Linked DNA regions of Homo sapiens: region 2 is linked to region 1. The links come from fine-mapping of genetic effects on gene expression. A gene starts in region 1. The other region holds a variant in brackets. All regions are shown on one strand. Distances are from middle to middle. Region 1 holds the start of LINC02963 (long intergenic non-protein coding RNA 2963). Region 2 has its middle 320 kb from the start of LINC02963.

Evidence for each region. PIP is the estimated chance that this variant, and not a neighbour inherited with it, causes the effect. A credible set is the group of variants that fine-mapping cannot tell apart.
Region 2: its variant is the best candidate, but not a certain one, in a credible set for the expression of LINC02963 in whole blood (TOPMed, PIP 0.63).

What each region holds. Positions count from the first base shown.
Region 1 is chr12:34,217,044-34,222,419 of GRCh38, reverse strand. LINC02963 (long intergenic non-protein coding RNA 2963) reads left to right here and starts at 3,209. Exons shown (of 5, transcript NR_185896.1): 1 at 3,209-3,294; 2 at 3,575-3,639. RefSeq lists enhancers at 3,032-3,532, 3,606-3,755, 3,533-4,033.
Region 2 is chr12:34,539,471-34,544,846 of GRCh38, reverse strand. No RefSeq gene overlaps it. Among named protein-coding and RNA genes, the nearest start is that of LINC02963, 320 kb to the right of the region's middle. The variant G/A (reference allele first, on the strand shown) is at 2,760.

The DNA of each region.
Region 1 (5,376 bases):
GCCCGGTGATGGAGTGAGACTCTGTCTAAAAAAAACCCCCCAAACCCAAAATTGCCAACAGGAAGAAGGCAGAAGCAAAACAGGTGCTCATGGCTGCCAGAGATTTGTGGGCCCTGCCTGGAGTAGAAGTCTAAATGCTGGCTCTGCATTGAAGACATGAGGGAATTTCTTTGCCTTGCTCTTGCCCCAGCTCCCTTTAACTGCATACCACGGTACCTCTTTCCTTTCTAGGTGATAATGCCCCATCCATAAGCAGGTTACTAACAAAAAACTCCTCTCCAAACACCTACAGGGGGAAGGTCCCCTTTTACTGAGCACCATGGCTACAATTTTAACAGTTACTGCAAAATAAAAGTTGCTACATTCTCATAATGATGGGTTTTCCCATAACCTGAAAAATTATTCACCGAGTGTCTGTAGCCAGGATGAAAAACACCCTTAAAGTTTAGATATGCATCAGTATTTCCCTCAAGAATAGCACAGGTTAAAGCTTTTATAAAGAGAAAAAAAAATAAGGAGTTGAAAAACATATAAATATAAATAAATAGCCACAAAAAGGGGAAGTTAGAGAGAGACTATGAAAACATCTTAGTCTTGAGGAAACATACAATCTGAGAAGCGATTCTGCAGGACTTGGCTGAAAGTCAATGGGAGGCTGATCAAATGAAGTGATAGAAGTCATGTAATTTGTCATATTAAGCATCTGCAACAAACCCACGTAGAATCCAAGGAATGTAGGTGATCTGACAAAAGGCCTCATGTTTAAAATTTGCCCTAAGCTTCCCCAAATCCACCAAAAATTTCCCCGTATGAGCCACCTTTTCAGATACAGTTTAGCTATCTGTTCTTGTGACACTAGGTTCATTTAAAGAGTTCTTGGGAGCCACGTGGGGTGGCTCACGCCCATAATCCCAGCACTTTGGGAGGCCATGCACAGCAGGTGGATCACTTGAGGTCAGGAGTTCAAGACCAGCCTGGCCAACATGGTGAAACCCCGTCTCTACTAAAAATGCAAAAATTAGCAGGGCGTGCTGCCATCAGCCTGTAATTCTAGTTACTCAGGAGGCTGAGGCGGGAGGATTGTTTGACTCTGGGAGGCAGAGGTTGCAGTGAGCTGAGATCACGCCACTGCACTCCAGCAGCCTGGTTGACAGAGCGAGACTGCCAAAAAAAAAAAAAGTTATTGGGGCTGGGTGCAGTGGCTCACGCCTGTAATCCTAGCACTTTGGGAGGCTAAGGTGGAAGGATGGTTTGAGGTGGGGAGTTTGAGACCAGCCTGGGCAACATAGTGAGACATCATCTCTGCCAAAAAAGAAAAAAAATCCATGTTGAGGCATTTTGTGTAAAAATAGAAAAAATTTCCTGGGCGTAGTGGTGTGCACCTGTAATCCTAGCTACTTGGGAGGCTGAGCCTGGAGGGTTGCTTGAGCTCCAGGAGTTTGATGCTGCAGTGAGCTATGATTGTGCCACTGTGTTCCAGCCTGGGCAATAGAAGGAGACCCTGTTTCAAAAAAAAAAAAAAGAAAAAAAGGCTGGACACACTGGCTCACGTCTGTGATCCCAGCACTTTAGGAAGCCAAGGCAGGTGGATCACCTGAGGTCAGGAGTTCGAGAACAGCCTGACCAACATGGTGAAACCCTGTCTCTAGTAAAAATACAAAATTAGCCAGGCATGGTGGCACATGCCTGTAATCCCAGCTACTTGGGAGGCCCAGGCAGGAGAATCACTTGAACCTGGGAGGTGGAGGTTGCAGTGAGCTGAGATTGGGCCATTGCACTCCAGCCTAGGCAACAAGAGCAAAACTCTGTCTCAAAAGAAAAAAATCTCTCTTTTTTTTACTGTTACAATGACAATAATAGAGGCTTTTCTCTCCAGGAGCTCTAAGTGAAATTAATGAGAATTCTCATGACCCTAGAAAGAGAGATTTAAAAAACACATAGCGCAGGTGTGGCGGCTCACACCTGTAATCCCAGCACTTTGGGAGGCTAAGGCGGGTGGATCCCTTGAGGTCAGGAGATCAAGACCAGCCTGGCCAACATGGTGAAACCCCAGTTCTACTAAAAATACAAAAATTAGCTGGGCTTGGTGGCACGCTTGCCTTTAGTCCCAGGTACTCGAGGGGCAGAAGCAGGAGAATCACTTGAACCCGGGAGATGGAGGCTGCCGCAGAGAGCTGATATCAAGCCACTGCACTCCAGCCTGGGCAACAGAGCCCATATAATTATTTGTATCTTTTTTTTTTTTTTTTGAGAGGTACTTTCACTCTTGTTGTCCAGGCTGGAGTGCAATGGCGCGATCTCGGCTGGCTGCAACCTCCGCCTCTCGGATTCAAGCGATTCTCCCACCTCAGCCTCCTGGGTAGCTGGGATTACAGGCACCCGCCATCATGCCTGGCTAATTTTTGTATTTTTGTAGAGACAGGATTTCACCATGTTGGCCAAGCTGATCTTGAACTCCTGATCTCAGGTGATCCTCCCTCCTCAGCCTCCCAAAGTGCTGGGATTACAGGCGTGATCCACCGCGTCTGGAGAGTTCTCTTTTCTTTGCGAAGGGCAAGGCGGACTAGAATGGATTCACCCAACAGCGGTGCGCATGCCCTAAAAGCATTATGGTTAGATCCATGTCAGACAGGTTAGTTTTACTGTTTGCGTTCCCCTTGTGTTGTTGCCCATGTGTTGCTACCATGGTAATCCTGCTCAGTACGAGAGGAACCGCAGGTTCAGACATTTTGTGTATGTGCTTGGCTTTGTTGGCCTTGGATAGGCGGTCCTCTGCCGTCCCCTCCGGCGGGCCGCTCTGCCTCAGGAGGGGCATGTCCCGCCATGCGCCGGGAACCAGGATCCGGTGCAGAGAGCCCCTCATCGTAGGAAATGGGCTGCTGCCAGAAGGGCGGTCACCCCCTGACCCATCACATAACGTGTTTTTGGGGAACCGGATGCTAAACTATTTGTAGACATCCTGCTTCTGGGTCAGGGTTTTCTATGGAGCAGAGCAGCTCCCTCGCTGCGATCTATTGAAAGTCAAACCTCCACACAAGGTTCCCTGCACCCGTGCGCGGGGGACCTGGTGATGTGGCGTGTCCTGTGTAATTCAGCCCTTGACGTCTACCTTCCTTCCTTTCTCCTGTTATACCCGGAACCTAGTTTCCTCGCCCGCTCATGCCCACCGGACCCGGAGCCCCGAAGCACGCAGCAGGTGTCCCTCCCGAGAGACCACTGGTGCCCGCTGTGTCTTCGGGAGGCGCCCGTCCCCATCTGCGGGCTTTCCAAGGTGCTGTGCTGGGGTTTGCCGAGGTAGGGGTGTCGCCCATGCTCGTCGTTCCCTCTCCAATTCCGCCTCCTTCCTGCACCCCGCTTTGACCTCCTTCAGGGGCTGGGATCGGATTTATCGGGCCTGGTGAGAATGGCTGAGGCGTGGGTGTCAGAGGGTGTGCCCCTGTGGTTCCTGTCCGAGTAGTGTTCACGCATGCCCAGTGGTGGCCACTGGGGTCACGGCCCCTCTACCCGCCCCAGGCGCGCGGGAATGGGACAGGAGCCAGTCACTGCCTTTCTGTCTTTCCTCCTCTCTCCGCAGCCCGGGTCAACCAGCCGACGGTGGCGGAACGGCGGGCAGGTCGGCGGAGTTAGATGGCCGCAAAGGTGGGCAGGCTCGGTGTGATAAGGTTCCAACTGGGTCTGATCGCTTCCGTCCGCGAGCGCCGGGTCCACCAAATGTCGGCGGCGAGCGCTGGCTTTGATGGTTAACTTGGGATTTCTAAGGTAGAACAGATCTCTCTGGTCAGCAGCACTACCACCTGCATCCACTAGATGTCGTTCTCTCACTACGTCGTTTCTTCCTCTCCAATTGTTTCCACAGTACTTTCAGTTGTCCTTCATTTTGTTTTTCTTTTTTCTTTTATGTTTCTTATTCCTCTTTTTACACACTGAAGCTGCTGTTGTTTTACCTTTATTTTTCTTTTTTGAGAAAGGTTGGAGTATGAGAATGTAATCTCGGCTCACCGCAGCCTCGACCTTCCTGGGCTCCCTCAGGTGATCTTGCTATCTCAACCTTCCAAGTGGCTGAGACTGCAGGAATTGCTTGATTCTGGGATGTCGAAGCTGCAGTGAGCCATGATCACGCCATTGGCCTCAAGCCTGAGTGACAGAGAAAGACCCTGTTTCAGAAAGTAAGAGAGACAGGTTAAAGAAATAACTCCTTGAAATTATTGCTATTAATTGTGATCTAAATTATCTTTTATATTTTTATATTTTTCACTCCTACTAGTTTATTATTATTGTTGTTGTTAGTATTTCTTTGTATTATTGTTTGTTATTATTGTTATTGTTTTTATTATTTAGTTATTTAGAGATGGAGTCTTGCTCCATCACCCAGACTGCAGTGCAGTGGCACGACCATGGCTGACTGTAGCCTCAAATTCCCGGATTCAAGTTCGAGACCAACCTGGGCAATATGGCAAAACGCCATGTCTACTAAAATCTGTCACTGTATACCCCCAGGGCCGTTGGATATGGCAGGTGCAAGTTCGGAGGCTGAGGCAGGCAGTTCGCTAGAGTTCGGGAGTTCGAGACGAGCCTGGGCAACAGGCTGCAGTACATTTGCCTGACCAAGGCCCACCGCAGCCTCCACCTCCCGAGCCCAAGAGATGCTCCCACCTCAGGCTCCAAAGGAACTGGGGCTACAGGCGCCTGCCATCACACCCAGCTAACTTTTTAATTTTTTTTTTTTTTTTTAAGTAGAGACGTGGTCTCACTGTGTTGCCAGGGCTGGTCTCAAACTGCTGGACTCAAGCGATTCTTCCACCTCAGCCTCCCAAAGTGTTGGGAGTATAGGCATAAGCCATGTTGTGCTGCCTTGTTTTTTATTTCCTTCATCTTTCTTTTTTTCTTTCACTTTCTTTCCTTTTCTTTCTTTTCTTTTTCTTCTCTCTCTTTTTCTTCCTCCCTTTTTTCTCATTTCTCATTCTCTTCTTCTGTTTCTCTGCCTTTCTATTTTCTTTTTCATCTTTCTTCCCTTTACATCTCTGTCTCTCTTGATCTTTTCTGCTCTCTCTCTTTTCTCAATTTGTTTCCTCCCATCCCTCTGTCTGTCCGTCTTTGTGTGGATTCTGGAAGAATCTCCTTATTCTGTATCCCCTGTGTATGTATCACAAGCCTCTAAGACTTTCGCTTTGTTGTTTTTCCTCCTTGTTGCATAAAATGTATTCACTCTTCTTTTATTTCAGTATTCTGTGGACAGTCGAGGGCTGGAAAAAAAACAGAAACATGAATTTGATTGGTTTCACAAGAGACATGGCAGACCAAAGAACATACGATGAGTACTTTGCTAAATGCCCTGTTTATTCTCCCAACCGGGCTCATAAAAGTACGGACACATTT
Region 2 (5,376 bases), 320 kb before region 1:
GAAAAAGAAAACATCTTCAGATGTAAACTAGAAAGAAGCTTTATGAGAAATGGTTTTGTGATGTGTGCATTAATCTCAGAGTTAAACCTTTCGTTTCATTCAGCAGTTTGGAAACATGGCTTTTGTCCATTCTGCAAATGGGCTTTTGGGAGCTCATTGAGGCCTACGGAGAAAAAGCGAATATCCCAAGATAAAATCTAGAGGGAAGCAATCTAAGAAACCACTTTTTGATGTTAATCCTTTCTTTGAATTCAGCATGTTCAAAACACTGTTTTTGTAGAAACTGCAAGGGTATATTTGGGAGTGAAAAGAGCCCTACAGAGGAAAACAAAATATCTTCAGATAAAAACTAGAAAGAAGCTTTCTGAGAAACTGCTGTGAGATGTGTTCATTGATCTCACAGAGTTCAAAGTTTCTTTTGATACAGCAGTTTAGAAACACTGTTTTTGTCCATTCTGCGAATGGGCATTTCGGATCTCATTGAGGCCAATGGTGAAAAAGCAAATATCTGACGATAAAATCTTGCGCAAAGTTATATGAGAAACCACTTTGTAACATGTGCATTCATCTCGCAGTGTTAAACCTTTCTTTTCCTTCATCAGTTTGGAAATACTGTTTTTGTAGAATCTACGATAGGATATTTTGGAGGGCATTGAGGCCTGTGGTGAAAAAGAAAATATCTGCAGATAAAAACTAGAAAGAAACTTTCTGAGAAACTCTTTCATGATATGTTCATTCATCTCACAGAATTAAAACCCTTTTTATTCAGCAGTTTAGAAGTACTGGTTTTGTCCATTCTGTGAATTGACATTTGGGCGCTCATTGAAGCCAATGGCAAAAAACAGAATATTGCAGCATAAAAAATAGTAGGAAGTTATCTAAGAAAATGCTTTGTGATGTGTGAATTCATCTCGTATAGTTAAACATTTCTTTCCATTCAGCCGTTTAGAAACACTGTTTTTGTATATTCTGCTTAGGGGTATTTGAGAGCACATTGAGGTCTGTGGTGAAAAACAAAATATCTTCAGATAAAAACTAGAAAGAAGCTTTCCCAGAAACTGCTTTGTGATGTGTGCATTTATCTACCTGAATTAAACTATTGTTTGGATTCAGCAGTTTGGAAACACTCTTTTTGTCCTTTCTGTGAATGGACATATTGGAGGTCATTGAGACCAGTGGTGAAAAAGTGAATAACCCATATAAAAACTAGAAGGAAGCTGTCTGAGAAACTGCTTTGTGATGTCTGCTTTCATCTCACAGATTTAATCCTTTCTTTTCATGCAGCATTTTGGAAACACTGTTTTCGTAGAAACTGCAAAGGGATATTGGAGTGCATGGAGGCCTGTGGTGAAAAAGGAAACATCTTCAGATAAAAACAAGAATGAAGCATTGTAAGAAACTACTTTGTGATGTGCGCATTCATCTCACAGAGTTAAAATTTGCTTTTCTTTCAGCAGTTTGGAAACACTGTTTTTGTAAATTATGCAAAGGGATATTTGGGAGACCATTGAGGCCTATGGTGAAAAAGGAAACATATTCAGATAAAATCAAGAATGAAGCATTGTGAGAAACTGCTTTGTGATGTGTGCATTCATCTCATAGAGTTAAAATTTGCTTTTCTTTCAGCAGTTTGGAAACACTGTTTTTGTAAAATCTGCAAAGGGGTATTTGGGAGACCATTGAGGCCTATGGTGAAAAAGGAAATAAATAAAGATAAAAACTTGAAAGAAACTTTCAGAGAAACTACTTTGTGATTTGTGCATTCATCTCACAGATTTAAACCTTTCTTTTGATTCAGCAATTTGGAAACACTGTTTTTGTCGACTCTGTGAATGGACATTTGAGAGTATGTCGAGGTCAATGGAGAAAAAGTGAATATCCCAGGAAACAAACTAGAAGGAAGCTACCAGAGAAACCCCGTTGTCACGTGTGCATTCATCTTACAGACTTTAACATTGATGCAACCAGTGAAAAAGGAGACATCTGCAGATAAAAACTAGAAAGAAGCTTGGTGAGAAACTGCTTTGTGATGTGTGCATTCATCTCACAGATTTAATCATTTCTTTCCTCTCAGCAGTTTGGAAAACCTGTTTTTCTTGAATCCTTGAAGGGATATTTGGGAGCGCATGGAGGCCTATGGTGAAAAAGGAAACTTCTTCAGATAAAAACAGAAATAAGCTTTCTAATAAACTGAATTTTGATGTGCACTTTCATCTCACAGAGTTAAAACTTTATTTGGATTCAGCACTTTGGAAACATCGTTTTTTTCCATTCTGCCAATGGATATTTGAGAGCTCATTGAGGCCAATGGTGAAAAAGCGAATATCACAAGATAAAAATTAGAAGGAAGCTCTCTGAGAAACCACTTTGTGATGTGTGCATTCACCTCACAAAGATAAAACATGCTTTTCTTTCAGCAGTCTGGAAACACTGTTTTTTTAGAATCTGTGAAGGGATATTTTGAAGCACAATAAGGCCTATGGTGAAAAAGGAAACATCTTCAGATAAAGACAAGAAATAAGCTTTCTGAGAAACTGCTTTGTAATGTGTGCATTCATCTCAAAGAGTTAAATCTTCCTTTGGATTAAGCAGTTTGGAAACAGTCTTTTTGTCCACTCTGCAAATGGAAATTTTTGAGCTCATTGAGGCCAATGGTGAAAGAGAGAATATCCCAAGATAAAAACAAGAAGGAAGCTATCATAGAAACCGCTTTGTGACGTGTGCATTCATCTCACTGAGTTAAACATTTCCTTTCATTC[G/A]GCAGTTTGTAAAAACTGTTTTTGTAGAAGCTGTAAAAGGATATTTGGGAGCACATTGAGGCCTATGGTGGAAAGGGAAATATCTTCAGAAAAGGGAATATCTTCAGAAAAAAACAAGAATCTTTCTGAGAAACTGCTTTGTGATGTATGCATTCATCTCACAGTGTTTAAACTTTCTTTTGTTTCAGCAATTTGGAAACACTGTTTTTGTCCATTCTATGAGTGGATATTTGGGAGCTTTTTCAGGCCATTGGCAAAAAAGGATTATCCCAGTGTAAAAACTAGGAAGAAGATTTCTTAGGAGCTGCTTTGTGATATGTGCATTCATCTCCCAGAGTTAAAACTTTCTTTGGATTCAGCAGTTTGGAAACAGTTTTTGTCCATTCTGCGAATTGCCATTTGGGAGCTCATTCAGGCTAAAGGTGAAAAAGTGAATATCTCAGCATAATAAATTGAAGGAAGGTATCTTAGAAACTGCTAGGTGATGTGTGTATTCATCTCACAGATGTAAAACTTTCTTTTCATTCAGCAGTTTGGAAACACTGTTTTTGTAGAATCTGCAAGGGGATACTTGGGAGCACATTGAGGCCTGTGGTGAAAAATGAAACAACTTCAGATAAAAACTAGAAATAAACTTTCTGAGAAACTGTTGTGATGTGTGCATTCAAATCACAGAGTTAAACCTTTCTTTTTATTCAGCATGTTGGAAACACTGTTTTTGTTAATTCAGCAAATGGACATTTGGGAGAGCATTGAGGCCAATGGTGAAAATGTAAATTTCCCAGGTTTACAACTAGAAGGAAGCTATCTGAGAAACCATTTATGATGTGTGTATTCATCTTGCAGAGTTAAACCCTTCTTTTAATACAGCAGTTTGGAAACTGCAGAATGTCCATTCTGCAAATGGACATTTGGAAGCTCATTGAGGCCAATGGCAAAAAAGTGAATAAGCCAGGATAAAAACTAGAAGAAACCACTGAGAAACCACTTTGTGAGGTGTGCATTCATTGCATAGAGCTAAAACTTTCTTTTCATTCAGCAGGTTGAAAACACTGCTTTTGTAGAATCTGTGAAGGGATATTTGAGAGCACATTGGGGCCTATGGTCAAAATGGAAACAATTCAGATAAAAACTACAAAGAAGTTTCTGAGAAACTGCTTGTGATGTGTGCATTCATCTCAAAGTGTTAAACCTTACTTTTTATTCAGCACTTAGGGAACACTATTTTTGTCCATTCTGTGAATGGATATTTGGCAGCCCTTCTAGGCCAATGGCAAAGAAGTGAATATCCCAGGCTAAAAACTAGAAGAAAGCTTTCTGAGAAACTGATTTGTGATCTGTGCATTCATCTCACAGGATTAAAATTTTCTTTACATTCAGCAGTTTGGAAACACTGTTTTTGTCCATTCTGCGAATGGACATTTGGGAGCACATTGAGGTCAATGGTGAAAAACCGAATATCCCAGCATAAAACAAGGAAGAAATTCTCTGAGAAACTGCCTTGTGATGTGTGCATTCATCTAGCAGAGTAAAACTTTTTTTTCACTCAGGAGTTTTGAAAAACAGTTTTTGTCAGATCTGCCATTTGTTATTTGGGAGAGAATTGAGGACTATGGTGAAAAAGGAAACATCTTCAGATAAAAACTAGAAAGAAGCTTTCTGAGAAACTGCTTAGTGATGTTTGCATTCACCTCACAGAGATAAACCTTTTCTTGGGTTCAGCAGGTGGAAACACTGTTTTTGTGCATTCTGTGAATGGACATTTAGGAGCTCATTGAGGCAAATGGCAAAGAAGGGAGTATTCCAGCATAAAAACTAGAAGGAAGCTCTCTGAGAAACCAATTTGTGATGTGTGCTTTCACCTCGCAGAGTTAAACCTTTCTTTTCATTCAGTAGTTTGGAAACACTGTTTTTGTAGAATCTGTGAAGGCATATTTGGGAATGCATTCAGGCCCATGGTGAAAAAGGAATCCCATTCAGATAAAAAATAGAAAGAAACTTTCTGCGAATGTGCTTTGTGATATCTGCGTTTATGTCACAGAGTTAAACCTTTCTTTGGATTCAGCAATTTGGAAACATTGTTTTTGACCTTTCTGTGAATGGACATCTGGGAGCTCATCAAGGCCAATGGTGAAAAAGTGAATATCCCAGGATAAGAAGTAGAAGGAAGCTATTAGAGAAACCACTTTGTGATGTGTGGATTCATCTCTCAGAGTTAAATATTGTTTTAAATTCAGCAGTTTGGAAACACTGTGTTTGTGGAATCTTCGAAGAGATATTTGGGAGTGCTTGGAGGTCAATGGTGAAAAAATGAATATCCCACAATAAAAACTAGAAGGAAGCTACCTGATAAACCACTTTGTGCTGTGTGCATCCATCCTGCAGAGTTAAACATTTCTTTTCGTTCATCAGTTTGGAAACACTGTATTTCTAGGATCTATGAAGGGATATTCGTGAGTTCATTGACATCAACGGTGAAAAAGGAAACATCTTCAGATAAAAACTAGAAGGAAACTTTATGAGAAACTGCTTCGTGAAGTGTGCATTCATCTCACAAAGTTAAACTTTTCTTTTGATTCAGCAGTTTGGAAACCCTGTTTTTCTCCATTCTGTGAAC